Homo sapiens: one gene and its partner. The protein of the gene in region 2 purifies or fractionates together with the protein of the main gene of each other region. This does not show direct contact. Each region holds a gene or a part of one and is shown on either strand. Other genes may lie near its edges.

Region 1 (7,027 bases), on a different chromosome or scaffold from region 2:
TACACCTCAGTTAAAAAGAAGGAAGGAAGGAGCTACTGGAGAACAGCCAGTCCCCACACACCTTTTGGGGGTAGGTAGGGAGCAAGGGTTAAAAAAGAGGCTGGGAGATGCAACAATGCTTAAAATCTGGACCATCAGGCTGGAAAACTGAAGATACTAGTTTCTTTCTTCCAGTTTCTTTATGCAAAGTCTACTTATTTTTAGTTTAGAAGAGTCAGCTTGGCCTTTAATATGTGTAGCTTCTTCCTCTTTTTTTTTTTGTTTTGTTTTGTTTTTTTTTAGACAGAGTTTCACTCTTGTTGCCCAGGCTGGAGTGCAATGGCGCAATCTTGGCTCACTGCAACCTCCGCCTCCCGGGTTCAAGCAATTCTCCTGCCTCAGCCTCCTGAGTAGCTGGGATTACAGGCGCCCGCCACCACGCCCGGCTAATTTTTGTATTTTTAGTAGAGACGGGGTTTCGCCACGTTGGCCAAGCTGGTCTCAAACTCCTGACCTCAGGTGATCCACCCGCCTCAGCCTCCCAAAGTGCTGGGATTACAGGCGTGAGCCACTGCGCCCAGCCAGCTTCTTCCTCTTTTATCATTTGTAAAACTATCTTGGGACTCACATCATAAAAATTAAGTTTTTCAAACGATATTGATACTCCATTCTTCTGGAGAAAACCATCAACCCACAACTGGTTACAACTTCCTATTACTTCATTTTCCTGAAACTTCACATACTAAAGCAAGAGGAGGTTCCTGATGCGAGCAGAGATGGCTAGAATGGCACTTCCTGGCAAACCAACCTGCAGACATCCCCTGACGTGGACACGGGAGATATGGGGGGTAATTTTTCAGAGAAGGGAGAAGGACAATCCAGGTCGCTGTCCTTTTCCGTGGAGCAGAGGGGCGCCCGCAGAACCCTACTCTTCAGTTTTGCAGATGTGCTGTCCTCAAAGACATCGTCGTCTCCCATCTCGTCAGAGCAGAAGCCCATACTCCCTGCCAGCCCGCTGGAGGACTTGGCAGTGTGCAGGCGAGCAGCGCAGCTCTCCAGCTCATGGAACCTGTGCAGGCTGCTGGCGCTCAAGCCGTGCGAGAGTGAGAACAGGTACTGGAGCAGTTGCCGGCTTCGGGACGTGGCCTCACCATCCGCCTTCTCTTCCAGCAGCAGGCCGGGCCTGCCCCCCTTGCCAGCTTCCACCTCTGAGGCAGTTGAGCGACCGGCAGAAAGGCATGAAACACAAGAATGTTTGGAATTGCCAAGAGGTTTGTGGTTCAGGGTTCTTTTTTCTTTATGATGAAACCTGTTAGTTCTGAGACACGTATCTTGAGGGAGTATTAATTTCCCTTCAGAACAAGTTCTTTCCACATAGGCAAAACTTTCTGAAGTATCCTGCGCCTTCTCACCCACATCATTGAGGGACCTTGAGAACTTTAGTGTTCTTCTGGCTTTGGTATTCTTAGCAGGCTTCAAGGCCTGGGCCCATTCTGAACCAAAGGAATTTCTCTTTGACGCCTGTAATGTGTCCTTACAGATAACTGTCACAGTGAGCCCTTGTGTCAGAGAACTCTGGCAGTGAGGAGCTTTCGAGACAACAGCAGACTGCACGGAACTGTGGTGACAACACTCAGAAAACACTGCACTGGAACTGCATGCAGAACAGTGGGATAAAAGCACAGAAAGTAAAAACAATTTTAAAAGAGAATAGACATCATAGTGAAGAAATGAGACTAGCATGGGTAACTTGGTGAGCAAACCACACATAAAACTCGCCAACTGTTTAGACCAAAGGCAGATTGATTAAGCAAATGGAAATTCAAGAACCTACAGACACTAATGCTTATTTCTGGCTGCACACTGATCATGGCAGCATCTGAAGCAGAGTGTTACCTGCAGATGTCCTGGCTGGATGGCGTGATAGAAGTGCGAGAGAAGGAGGACACCGGAGCCGGAGCTGATGCTGACGGAGGACTCCCAGCCTGCAATGACAGACCTGTGGTCAGTGTTCAGGTAAGAGCCAAGGGGATTGTGTGCACTGTCTCCTGAATGGTGACAGGGAGAAACCCTAGAAATGTCTGCTGCTTCCCGCTGCTCAACGAGTAACACATATTAGATCCTTCTAAGCCTTGGCAAAACAAATCAAATATCACTATTTTTTTCTTATCTGTGGATAAAAGTGTAAGAAATGTCTAAGGCTATGGAACACCACTACTAATCTCTTGCAGGTCCAGTGGCCGTTTATTTTCTAAGCATCTAAATTGAGTTAGTTCATATATAAGTCAAAAAACGAAGTACTAGAAGGTATCATACAAATGCCAAAGAAATATGAGGCTCCAGGCCTGCTGGCACTGGCTTCCCTAGCACTCTCTCCTAGTTCCCAAGATCAACAAGGCTGGTAGATTTAAGAGCTCTCTCCCACCTCACAACCTCATACATAGTGCCAGATGCTCCCTGAGTTCCACAAAACCTCACTGCCCTGCCACAGCTCTTCACACAAAAGGGAGTCCAGACCACGTCACCATGGGGGACACCAATCCATAGCTCAACCAGGGGCTGAGGTAGAGCACAGAATGCTCCCAACAGATCTAATCTTGAAACTGTAAATTAAGAAAAATAATCAAGAAAATTTAGATTTGAAAGAAAGTACAGCAAGAGGTCATGGGATAGAACAGAGTCTCTGGGGTGGTGAATAGTCAAACTTAGAGAAAAAAATCTAGGAAGGAGAGGAAGCACTGCAGTGAGGAGAGAAATGGACAGAGAGAAATAGGGACAGTGAGTGGCACTGAGCTGAGGATGCACCACCACCGCTAGAGGGCCCCAGACTCCCACGCCAGCCTCGGATTCCCCAGGCTCCACAGCCCCACAGACCTATGCGTATTCATAAAAAAGCATTCTTCCCTCCTTAAGACAGTAAGCCTGAGTAAGAATCTGCTCCATGCAACCCCAACAGCCCCAGGAAAACAGTGCCACGAGTCTGTTATCACCAGAAAGGCCATATCACCACCCACCTTCTGCAGGCCCACCTGCATGGCCCTTGGCCCTAACTCCTTGATACAAAGGAGCTCCACCCTGGCCCACCATTCCCTGGCTGAGGCCTAGTCCCCACTCTTTCTAAGTACCATCCCCAAGGGTGCACTCTCATCCTGGAACTCCACCTTTGGGACCCCCGACCCTTGGTCAACCACCAGAACAGATAAGGCCATTGCCTGGAAACTCCTCCTCCCCCTACCCCTCACAGCAAATGAAGCAGCCTGGAGAGAGCCAGGATGGCACTCGGATTAAGGCACCCATCGCATGGCTGCTCCCACTCCCAGTGCAGAGATTCAACAGCACTTTAATGCAAGTCCACCTGAAGAAACAAGATCCAAGAAGCTCTCATCAGCATGCTTCATGTGTACACTGAGATCACGCTGTGCCACTCCATGAGCACATCTTCGAATTCACCAAAGAATCTACATTTATTTTCTAACTGAATGTGCATATGGGCATGAGGTACACGGTCTTTAAAAGCATTAGAGGTCAAAGTTCTTAGGAATCTTAAGTTTACTTGGACACATGAAAATAGCATCCTTGAAATAACCCTCCCATCACTACCTTTGTCAATATTCTTCCTGAAACAAAATGAAAGACATCTAGGGATGCCTGTGGACACTATGCTGTGACATCCCTTGCATCTTCTAGGCCTGACTGCATAAGCCATTGTCCTTTTTCTCCAACTGCCTTAGACACTGTCCCCTCTCCAGCATCCTCCTCTCGGGGCACCCATCACTGGCTCCACCTGCCCCAGAGACAAGCACTCAAGGCCTTTTAGTACAATGGGCTTTACTGTTTATACCACAGGGGAGCAGATTGAGAGGGTATCCATGCTAAGGTCCCCAAACTCCTACAGTCCCCCTGTTCTCTGACATTTAGTCCTAACACTATTCTGGGACTGAAAGCCTTCCTGTACTTATTGCTCTCTTCTTTTATTTCTGAGGATGACCAGCTCTGTTCAACACACATAGGCAAGGCTAAAATGTGTCATGAAGACCAAAGCCTGATCACGGTGTATTGCAGAGAAGTAAGCGTCTTCATCACCTGTCCCCAGGTAGACTTTGAGGAAGAAATACCCAGCAATATCCACATGCTTGCCCCTCATTGCTATGAGGTCACTTCTTCCTCTGTGTTGCTGGGTCAAGCATACTCCCTGGAACTGATGAGGCATTGAAGGAAGCCCCCTTCCTTCAAGGGATGGCAGCAGAGGAAAGTACCTAGTCACCCTCCTCCCTTTTATCTTAGTAAGAGCATGGTCCTCTTGGAACCACGTGTACTTTCCTGTATTCTGAAGGGAAGGCAAACCCTGTTGGGAGGAGGTAAGGTCTTATCTGGAAAATCGTGCCCAATCAAGGTCAGTGTCCTGGGTCCGGGAGGCAGGTTTCTGATGGGAAATTAAAGTTCTGAACTCCAGTACTAAACTACAAGTAATCCAAGTCAAAAAGTGTACTCTGGGGTAACGATTCCATCCTTGCATGCCCATGATGAGGAGCAAGGCCTGAAGGTAGGAGGGCAGAGCCTCGTAACAAAACAAAGCCTGGATCAAGGAAGCAGCCACACCAGGCACACACACACGTCAGGACATGTGTTCACTTCCCTGTGTGGTTCCCCATGTGTGTGCACTTGTAGCAGATGTCAAGGCCAGCATGACAGTGACAGCGGACCCAAGGAGGAAGGGAGTTCTGGCAGGGCTGGGGAGATTCTGCCCTGCTCAGTTTTACTTAGGAAATAGGAAACAGCGTTGGCATCCTCTGCCTACATTTCTGCTCTCATTTCACCATTTCCAATCTTATGAAAACATTACAGGATACTCTCAGCAGGTATGTCCGATCCTCATCAAGCCTCCCAATGACAGAGAAAGAGTCTCTCTTCTTATTAGATCACAGAATTTAAAGAAAAATTTTAAAATCTACTTATTGTTATTTTACATAAATATAAACTTCAACAAATGCTAACTCTTCCAATAAAAGCAAGAAAACCAGTGAGATCTGTGGGGTCTTCACAGCTCCCAGAAGAGGCTCCTTCTGTCACGATCTAAAGGACAGCAAACATTTCAAAGGTCAGAACCAATCCATAGGCAGAATGGTCAAGAAAATAATTTTAAAGAGCTTTATTTGTTGCTGCTATAGACCTGAGAGAAATCTATCAACCAACAAAGACCTAAAAGACTGGCCTGATCAACAACAAAATGAAGCTGACAGCTTCAAATAATGGTTCCATGGTCAGATTCTGGAAGCCAGTGTAATCAAAGGCCAGCAATCCCCTCTTAGGAGCTCTGCAGGACAGAACCTTACTAGATGGGACAGGACCTCACTAGATGGGACAGGACCAGCCGTCCTGCTCTTTCTGAAAGCAGCAGGCAGTGTGGCACGTGTGAGCCGGGGGCAGTACTAGCTCCAGAGAACACCTACACTCTCCTCTCCATAGGATCAGACCACACACGACTCGACAATTACTAATAAAAGTGCAAATGTTCATCATGCAAAAATCCAAATGTGTCAAGAAAACTTAGGCCCTCTGTTCCTGAAGTTCTTTGCGGGTTGCCAAATGACAGACTCTCCAGTCATGAAAAGGAATATAAAGCAATCTCACTACAAAAAAAAAAATTCTTGTAAAAATCCTCCCTTCTTCAGATGTTGTAATTAATTATGCCAAAACAAACCTCTGGATTTCTATCCAAGCCTAAATCCCAGTTTATTTTATTTCTTAGAAATGATAAATACTTTTTGACAATTTGTTTTGCTACATCCAAGTCTTTTAGTGGCTGGCTTTGTTATCAAATTCACCATTTTAAATGATTTTAACAAGGTTGCCAAAGAACATACGGGGAAAAAAAACTTTTCCATATATCCTTGGCAGAAACTGGCATTCCCCTTTTCTCAGTTCCCTTCTGAGAGTGCCTGCTGTCGCTGGAGCAGCTATAGCAGTGTGTTTACCCAGTTGATAGTGCACACATCCTTCTCACTGCAGGACACCAGCGCACCTTCCTTGGCCTCTGGCGCCTTCTGCCAGGTTACTGCCCAGCCTCCTCTATTACCCACGCCCCTCATTTTCTGTGCAACCCCCAACTGGGCCTCCTTTTCACTCATCAGCTAAGCTACTTTTAAACATTTGGGTCTCAGGCCCCTAACAAAAGCAAATTTGCCCATCTGATTTATTTCAAAAGGGAGAGGGCCACAGGAATGATCTGTTTGAGTGAGCTTGTTTTTAGGCAAGGAGGAACGTGAAGACAGGCTGGATAAGGATGGTTAAGAGGCCAGAAGAGCTCATGTTTACAACTCATCACAAATTACAGTACTGCAAATCAATGACTTAACAGAAACAATGGGAAAAGATGCACAGATGGCTCTCAAAACATGAAAAGATGCTTCATTTCTCTCACAATGAGAAATACAAATTAAAACTACAATGAGATACCATTATCAGCCAAGAAAATTAATCAAATAATATGTGTTGGCGGAAGTGTTGGGAAGCAGGTATGCTTATACATTGCTGGTGGGAGAGCAAATGGTAAACCTCCACAGGATGACAACTGCCCTCAGGATGACAAAGGCACATATACTTTGTCTCAGCAATTCTTTTAGGAATTCATCCTCACACACCTGCGGGAAGAGGTTTGTACACTGCACTAGTTTGTGACAGCAAACGGCTGGAATCACCCTAAATGCCCATCACCTTGGAGCTGAGGCAACACTGTTCCATCTACAGAAAGAAATATCAGCAATCATTAAAAAAATGGGAAAAGTTCTCATTATGTCCAGTAATGAACACACAAAGTGAAACAAGCAGAGAGAGGCACCACTGCCATCTGTGCTGGTGCTGCACAGACTACTCAGGAGGGAGACCAGGGAACCTGGATGGAGGGACATGGACTTGTCACAGAGACCCACAAAACCATAATGCCACTTTACACTGAGCAACATTTCCCAAACAGAAATTCATTCTTAAAATAACAGGTGATTGATGATTTTAAAAAGTAAAACAAAACTGCAGAAGCACAACCAACTGC
Region 2 (7,027 bases):
TCACCTCTTTGGTGAGACCCTCCCAAGTTGTGCTATTTAACAGTGCCCCTTTCCAGCACACTTGCTCCATCTGCTCTCCTCACCCCACTTCACTCCTTTTCTTTCTTTTTTTTTTTTAAACTCTATATGGTCTAAAAAGGGAAGGCATGAATAATACACCCCTTGTTTAGCATATAATCAAGAAATAACCATAAAAATGTGCAACCAGCAGCCCTCATGGCTGTTTTGCTTATGGAGTGGCCATTCTTTTATTCCTTTACTGTGTGTGTGTGTGTGTGTGTGTGTGTGTGTGTGTGTGTGTTTCACAGCTCTTAACAGCACCTGCCACTAGGTCATGGACTTTATAGAACAAAGCTTTGTTGTGGTCACTCCTGAACCGCCAGTGCTGAGAGCATTGCTTGACACACAGTGCACACTAAACTGCTGAACGACGCTTGAGTTAATCTTCCTCCCAACCCATGCAGCCACACTTACTGTTGCCTTCACTTTCTGAACACACAGACCAGGCCAATCATTGAGGAGCTGACACATCAGACCTCGTGCCATGTGTCTCCTACCTCTCGCCGGTGGATCGCTTCCTTCAGCAGGGTCACCACGTCCTCGCCCTCGCAGCCAGATGCCTTGAAGCCTTTTGTCCACTTGAGGAGGATGCTCTAAAAATCACACACAAGCATGGAAAGGACATCAGGGAAGAGCTCCCAGGTCAGTTCTGGGGGTCCAGCTGTGCTTCTAGCTCTCAACCTCACAGGTCAGACGGATCCCCCAGAGTCACCAATCATCTCACCCGCAAATTAAACTGTTCCTAAGGTACTTACTTGGATTTATTGAGCACCTACTGTGTAGCAGGTACTGGGCTAAGCATAGATCATGCATTACATTATTTAACCCTCACAGCACCCTTGTGGAACATCTATCATGTTTATGGCCACTTTATAAGAAACTGAGGCTCTGGAGTGACTTGCTCAAGGCCTACAGCTTGGAAGAGAGAAGCAGGATGCACTCCGAGGCCCTCCGACCCCAGTGAATGGGCTCATAAGCACCACGCAGCTGACCCTGCTGTGCAACTTCTTCCTATGTGCTTGGTTCGCTCACTGGGCAAAGCAGTTTGCTCTGTCCCTATCCTTTACATCAGAAGGGTCAGTGTATGTCTCCTAATTTTCAAACTCCAGCATCTGGCGAACAAGTGCTTTGCCCACAGCTGGGTGACAGCTAGGCTTCACCACCACCCCATGTCTTTCAGTGAGGAAAACAACTCCAGGCTCCTCCTCAGCATCCTCAGTGGCCCCTTGCCTTCAATGTGGTCCTCTGGGAGCAGATGCTTGACGGCTTTGAACCTGGGAGAAATGCTTTGGGTTTTATTCCCTGATGCCCTCTCTGCTGCCACAGCCCACCAGGAAACAAGCCTCAGGGCTTCAGACTCCTTACCCAAGAGCTCGGCTTCCATAAATGAGCTGTGTGCTCATAACCCACCCACTTGCATGATTTCTCCAGGCCTTGCTCAGGGATTCATGCCCATCAGCTTGGCATTTCATTCACATCAACCTGGAGGTGTCACACTGTGTTCAGACCCCAGGAGATTCAGAAAAACAAAGCACATACCCTCAGAGAGCTGGCTGACCAGTGTGTGCTGATCTCCACCCAGCTCTCTACAAGTTAGCTTCACATGTTTGACGCAAGTTTGTGTTTACGGGATGTTCAAATAACATAATTTCAGGTGATCCTTACTGATGAGGCAAGTGGAGGCCCAACAGCTGGGAAACACAGCTGGGGGCCACAGAGCCCTGGGGTCTCTAACCCCAGGGGCCTCTGCACTGGTGGGATTTCCCCATCACAGGAGGGTCTTGCCAGAGCCCACAGGAAGAAATGACTTCTGCTTTATTTGCTCTTAATTTTTACGGCTCTAGACCTAACACGTGCTCCTCAGAGAAACCTGGAACACAGAATAAAACCTAATCCAATGGCCTGGAATCTCACAATTCAGACAGAAACAGTTAACACACATTCTGGTTTCCCTGGCAAATATATAAATAAATATATAACCTGTTGGCATGAAAAGTTAAGATAGTATCTACTTGAAAATATTTTGGTAGGAAGTCTAGAAGAAGGATATACACTGGAGGGTTATGCTTTTATCATCCCATTAATTGTATTTTATGTTTTTTTATAAAGAGATTACCATTTCTAAAGAAAAGTAGTTTTAAAACTTTTTAGTCATATCACCAGTAATTTTTCATGTGATTAAAATTTATTACAAATAACTAGTGGCTGATACTAGCTAATAAGTGGGTCATAATTTATTTAACTACTATCTCACTATTCAGCAAGTTTGTTTCTAATATCTTTGTTATAATAAGTAATGGTCCATTAAATAGTACATAAGAATTTGTCCACATGAGGCATAAAGCAACGCTAGTCTGGTTAACACTACATGAATGTTAATAGGTGTTGAGAAATGCCAGACTAAGCTGAGTTTTTATTGCAGAACTTCCTAAAACCTTAATTATACTAGTGCACATGGGGAATTCTCTCAGATAAGGAGGAGAAGGAGGCATCTACAAAACTCAGTGAAGCCAAGGTGAGGGCCACTGTTGCAGGGACCCTGTGGGAAATGCTGCTCTTTCCTTGTCACTAGGGTAGGCTCTTCTGCGCTGGCCCAGCTCTTTCTGTCACTTGCTCCCACCTACATGACCCTCTCCACAATGGGCAGCCTGCTCACCTTTCTTTCCCATCAACTCATTCTTCTGACTTGTTCCAAGTCCTCCTGACATCCCCCAGGTATGCACTCGGATTAACATCTGTCTCACTACCTGTCCTGGGGGCTTCAGTATCCATCCCACGAGGGCCACATTCCAAACAGCAGCTCTTCCTTTTCTGAGCTTGCTTCATCAGCCCAGCTTGTTTGTAAGCATCTAAAGGTAGGAGCCATGCCTTTTATACCTAGCAGTGGCATGTGCAACATACCACACACCGGCAGCGTGCACGTGCACTCCTACATGACTGAGACAGAGACACAACTGCTTAAAAACAGTCTCCAGATACCTAATGCTTAGGGCTACCAGTCATCAGCAGATCCAGCACTGCCTACTCAGTTCTCCTCCACTTCTCGGGGCACTCATGTCCAGAACATCTGGGAGTGCCAGATCCTCATGCACCTACTTCATTCACCCAAGGTAACCTGAAGAGGAGTGAGAAGCAAGATGAGACCAGAGAAGAGCCAGGGCATCCAAACAACAGGATATGGCATGAAAATGCCCTGAGCCCATAACAAGGGCCTCAGGAGCCCCACAGCATAACTGACAGCACAGGCTCAGGCATCAGGAACCCAGAATCCAAATCTTGGCTTGGCCAGTCCCAAGCTATTATGACCTGGAGCAAGACACCCAGCACCTCTGTGGGGCTTATCTTCCTTTCTGTAGAATGGGTATTCAAACATATCTCTTATATGGTTGCTGTGAGGGTTAAACGAGATAATGCAGGTAAGAAACCTAACATAGTACCTGGCACACAGTAAGTGCTTAAAAATGCTATATATATATATATAAGTTCAATAGAGATGGGGTCTTCCTATGTTGCCTAGGCTAGTCTTGAAATCCTGGCCTCAAGTAATCCTCCTGCCTCAGCCTCCCAAAGTGCTGAGATTACAGGTATGAGTCACCACACCCGGCAGTTGTTAACATTGAGTAGCATCATCATCGTTGTCCCAAAGGCTGTCACAGCTGAGCTAACCTACTTAACCTCCACCAGCCTCAACTTACTCATTCCCATCAAGGAGCCCCTCCCCACTACTGGTAACTCACGCCCTCCTTTCCTTAGTCTTAGCTCAACTTTCTCCCCTGCTCCATACCTGGCTGGTTTTGTTTAGAGTCAATAAAGCCCACAGGAGAGCCCTCCAGGAAGGTGCTGTTACCTCGTCCAGGCTGTTCTGCTGGCAGGGGAAGGAGAAGGTAAAACCCAGAGGCAGGGACACGCCCTTCATGCCCATGTACTCGAGGAAGTCCGCGATGCACTGGACAATGTGGTCAAAGAGCTGCAGGGAGAAGTTAGGACACTGAGGGAGGGGCCCTGGGCAGGGCAGGCTGCCCCCAGTAGGGCCTGCGCACAACATCAATGTTTCTTTCCACCCAGAAGAAATGCAGGCTCAGGCACAAACCTGAGTCAAGACCAGGCTGCAGCCCTGGGTCCAGCTAGCCCTCCCCAGGGTCACAGATGAGCAGAGAAAGCACTGTCCTCGAAGGCAAGAGGTGACGTCCACCAGGGGCCCCCTCCTGAAGGCGCCGCCCTGCTCACCTCGTCCCCGGTGCCGTGCATGACCTCCTGCGGGATGGCGTAGATCTTGTTGTGCATCTCCACTCCACCCCACTTCCCATTCCGAACACGGACCAGCAGGACCCGGAAATTTGTTCCTCCAAGGTCCAAGGCCAAGAAGTCCCCTTTCTCTGGAAAATAAGCCCAGGGAAGTGATAAGTTGGGGCAGAACATGGGGAATGTGGAGACAGTACACTTAAAACGATCCAAATACACCATTCCTGTTCCATCAAATGCCACTTTATATTACATTCTAGAATACAGAAGGAACAGAAGAGTCCAGCTCCCTGAAGGAAGCTGAAGGGAAATCTTTTAAACTGAGAAAACCCTCCCTTGTTGGACAATTACAGTGTGCCACATGCTTCACACACAGTCCTCGTTCAACCCTTAGGCAGCCCTGTGAGGGAGACACTGCATTCCTCTCTTAAGGATGATTGGGATCTGGCTGATAGTTAAATCACTTGCCCGGGGCCATACGACCAGGACAGGGTAGAGCAGGGACCAAATCCCAGTCTGTCTCTGGAACCTGTAACAACTGTGCTACACTGGCCTGCTCATCGACTGTCTTCTCTGAATTGGAATAAGACCACCATTTCTGAGGTTACAAGACTTACAGCAGGGGTCAGAAATCTTTTTCTGTAAAGGCCCAGACAGCAAACGTTTTAGGCCCTGTGGGTCATGCAGTCTTTGCTGCCACCACTCAACTTTGCCAAGACAGTGCAAAACAACCATAAGCAACGTGCAGACGCATGGGCATGGCTGTGTAATAAAACCTTATGTACAAAAACAGGTGGTGGGCCAGATTCAGCCCATGGGCCATAGTTTGCCAACCCTGACTCAGACCAATGTGGTGATTGCAAGAGCAGATTCTAGAACCTGAATTCCTGGGTTTGAATCCCAGCTCCGACATTTTCTAGTTGTGTGAATTTAGGCAGGTGTCTTAACTTCTCTGCGCCTCAGTTTTCTGTCAAACATAGGTGAATACATAAAATTAACTGCTAATATTTTTTAACAGTTAACAAAGATTAAATGAGCTCATACACATAAAGTGCTTTGACACACAGTAAGCATTCAATAAGTGTTGACCATTACTACTGTTTGCAGAGGAGCACCTTGTTTGAGTTTATCAAAGACTAGAACTCCCTAGTAATACGGCTGAAGAAACGTGTTCTGGTTCAAATGTCCAATGCTAATGCTAAGGGATCCCTCCCAGGGTATCAACACCAGGACAAAGGCCCACCATGTGAGCCAGGTGGCAACCCTGCCGTGTACCTGTGCCGTCCGGGGTAGCACACACGTAGGTGGGCAGCATCTTGACGGGGGCACTGGCATGAGTCTCCTTGCTCAGACCTCGCTCCATTTCTACCTTCATCCTCCTCTTGACCTCCAGCAGCTGGTCATGGCTCAGCTGCAGATGCTCTAATGTCTTCTGGCGGGCACGGTGTTGATCGGCCAGCCGGTAAGCCACTGCTGTCACCATGGCTGCACCTTTGCCACTGCCATCCTCGGAGCGGAGGAAGCGGACATCGCAGCCGGGCACCAGCCGCCGCACGGTCTTATGTAGACGCTTGGCAAAACTGCAGTTCCCCAGGGCGGGTAAGAGACAGGTGTCCATGGTTAGGGTCAATGGTGCAAATAGTTAGACAGTTGCCCACCGCCTTAATCCAAATGCCAAAAGGCACCTGCAGGAGTGGGTGCTGCCCTAAACATCCTCTCTCCACTGTCCCAAGTTAGGAACCACTACAAGAACCATATCAACTATGACCACCCAGGATTGGTTCACCCCCGCCAATGAAAGGAAAAGACCTTTTAATAAGCCACTGTCCCCTACATGCAGCCACACAAGACCTCCTCTTCCTCACTGAAGAAGGCCCCCTGGCCACTGCTCCCTTGCCCAACATGGTACCATCAGCCTCTTTGCTGGAGCAGCCCTGTGGTATTAGGTGGTTCTGATGCCACCTATCTGTCTTGTTCTATCACTCATTTCACTAGCTGCTGTCTGGGAAAGACCCAAAATTAAAAGCTAGAGATGCTCTTCTGGACTTTAGCCTCTCTTTTGCCAGTTTCTGCCAATGATCCCAAAGGTGTCTGCACAGCTAAAGACAACGTGTTCAGCCAGGAACTCTCTGGGTAGTGGCCACTTGGAGCCATGGTCTCCAGGGCCTTCCTACTCCAAGTGCAGGAGTAGGCTGCAGCCTACTGGGGGCTGTTAGAGATGCGGGATCTCAGACTCACCCCAGACCTTCTGATCAGAATCTGCCTCTTAGCAAGATCCCCATGTGATTCACGTGCACACTCGAGTTTTTGCAACACTGGGTAGGAAGAGGGAATCTCAGGGCTGAGGCCTCCTGCACCGACAAGTTAAGAAAACAAAGGCACATTGACCTGGCATTCTTATTAGGTGAAAATGATGGGGAAATAAGTAGGCACAATAAAGAGACATCTTCCAGGTCTCAGCTGACATGTGAATATTCTGGTACCTATGACCTGAGGGATCAAAATGTGGACAGGGCAGGATCAATTTAATACCAAGGTCAGCCAGAGAAGCTGGTAACCCTCACTGGGCTGGGGTGGTCCCTGGCAGAGGACATAGCACCTGCAGGAATCACCAAGAATTCTAAGAGTAAAGACAGGAACAATAACGCATACAAGAGGGTGGCAAAGAGAGTGTCCAGCAGCCAGAGGAGCTCTGCGGAGAGCCCGAGTCATCAGTAGCCTTCAG

What was found. Proteins that work in one complex are often made in the same cells at the same time.
Region 1: the proteins of HK2 (region 2) and MARCHF8 purify together in Homo sapiens (affinity purification with western blotting; 2 studies listed by BioGRID). This does not show direct contact.

Annotation. Positions count from the first base shown.
Region 1 is NC_000010.11:45,462,364-45,469,390, forward strand, and holds part of MARCHF8 (E3 ubiquitin-protein ligase MARCHF8), read right to left. Parts: intron 1,996-7,027; exon of another isoform or gene 1,965-1,995; coding exon 1,876-1,964; intron 1,634-1,875; coding exon 788-1,633; intron 1-787. UniProt on the Homo sapiens protein: E3 ubiquitin-protein ligase that plays several important roles in innate immunity and adaptive immunity.
Region 2 is NC_000002.12:74,879,120-74,886,146, reverse strand, and holds part of HK2 (hexokinase-2), read right to left. Parts: intron 5,883-7,027; coding exon 5,578-5,882; intron 4,437-5,577; coding exon 4,288-4,436; intron 4,028-4,287; coding exon 3,908-4,027; coding exon of another isoform or gene 3,845-3,907; intron 654-3,844; coding exon 558-653; intron 1-557. UniProt on the Homo sapiens protein: Catalyzes the phosphorylation of hexose, such as D-glucose and D-fructose, to hexose 6-phosphate (D-glucose 6-phosphate and D-fructose 6-phosphate, respectively).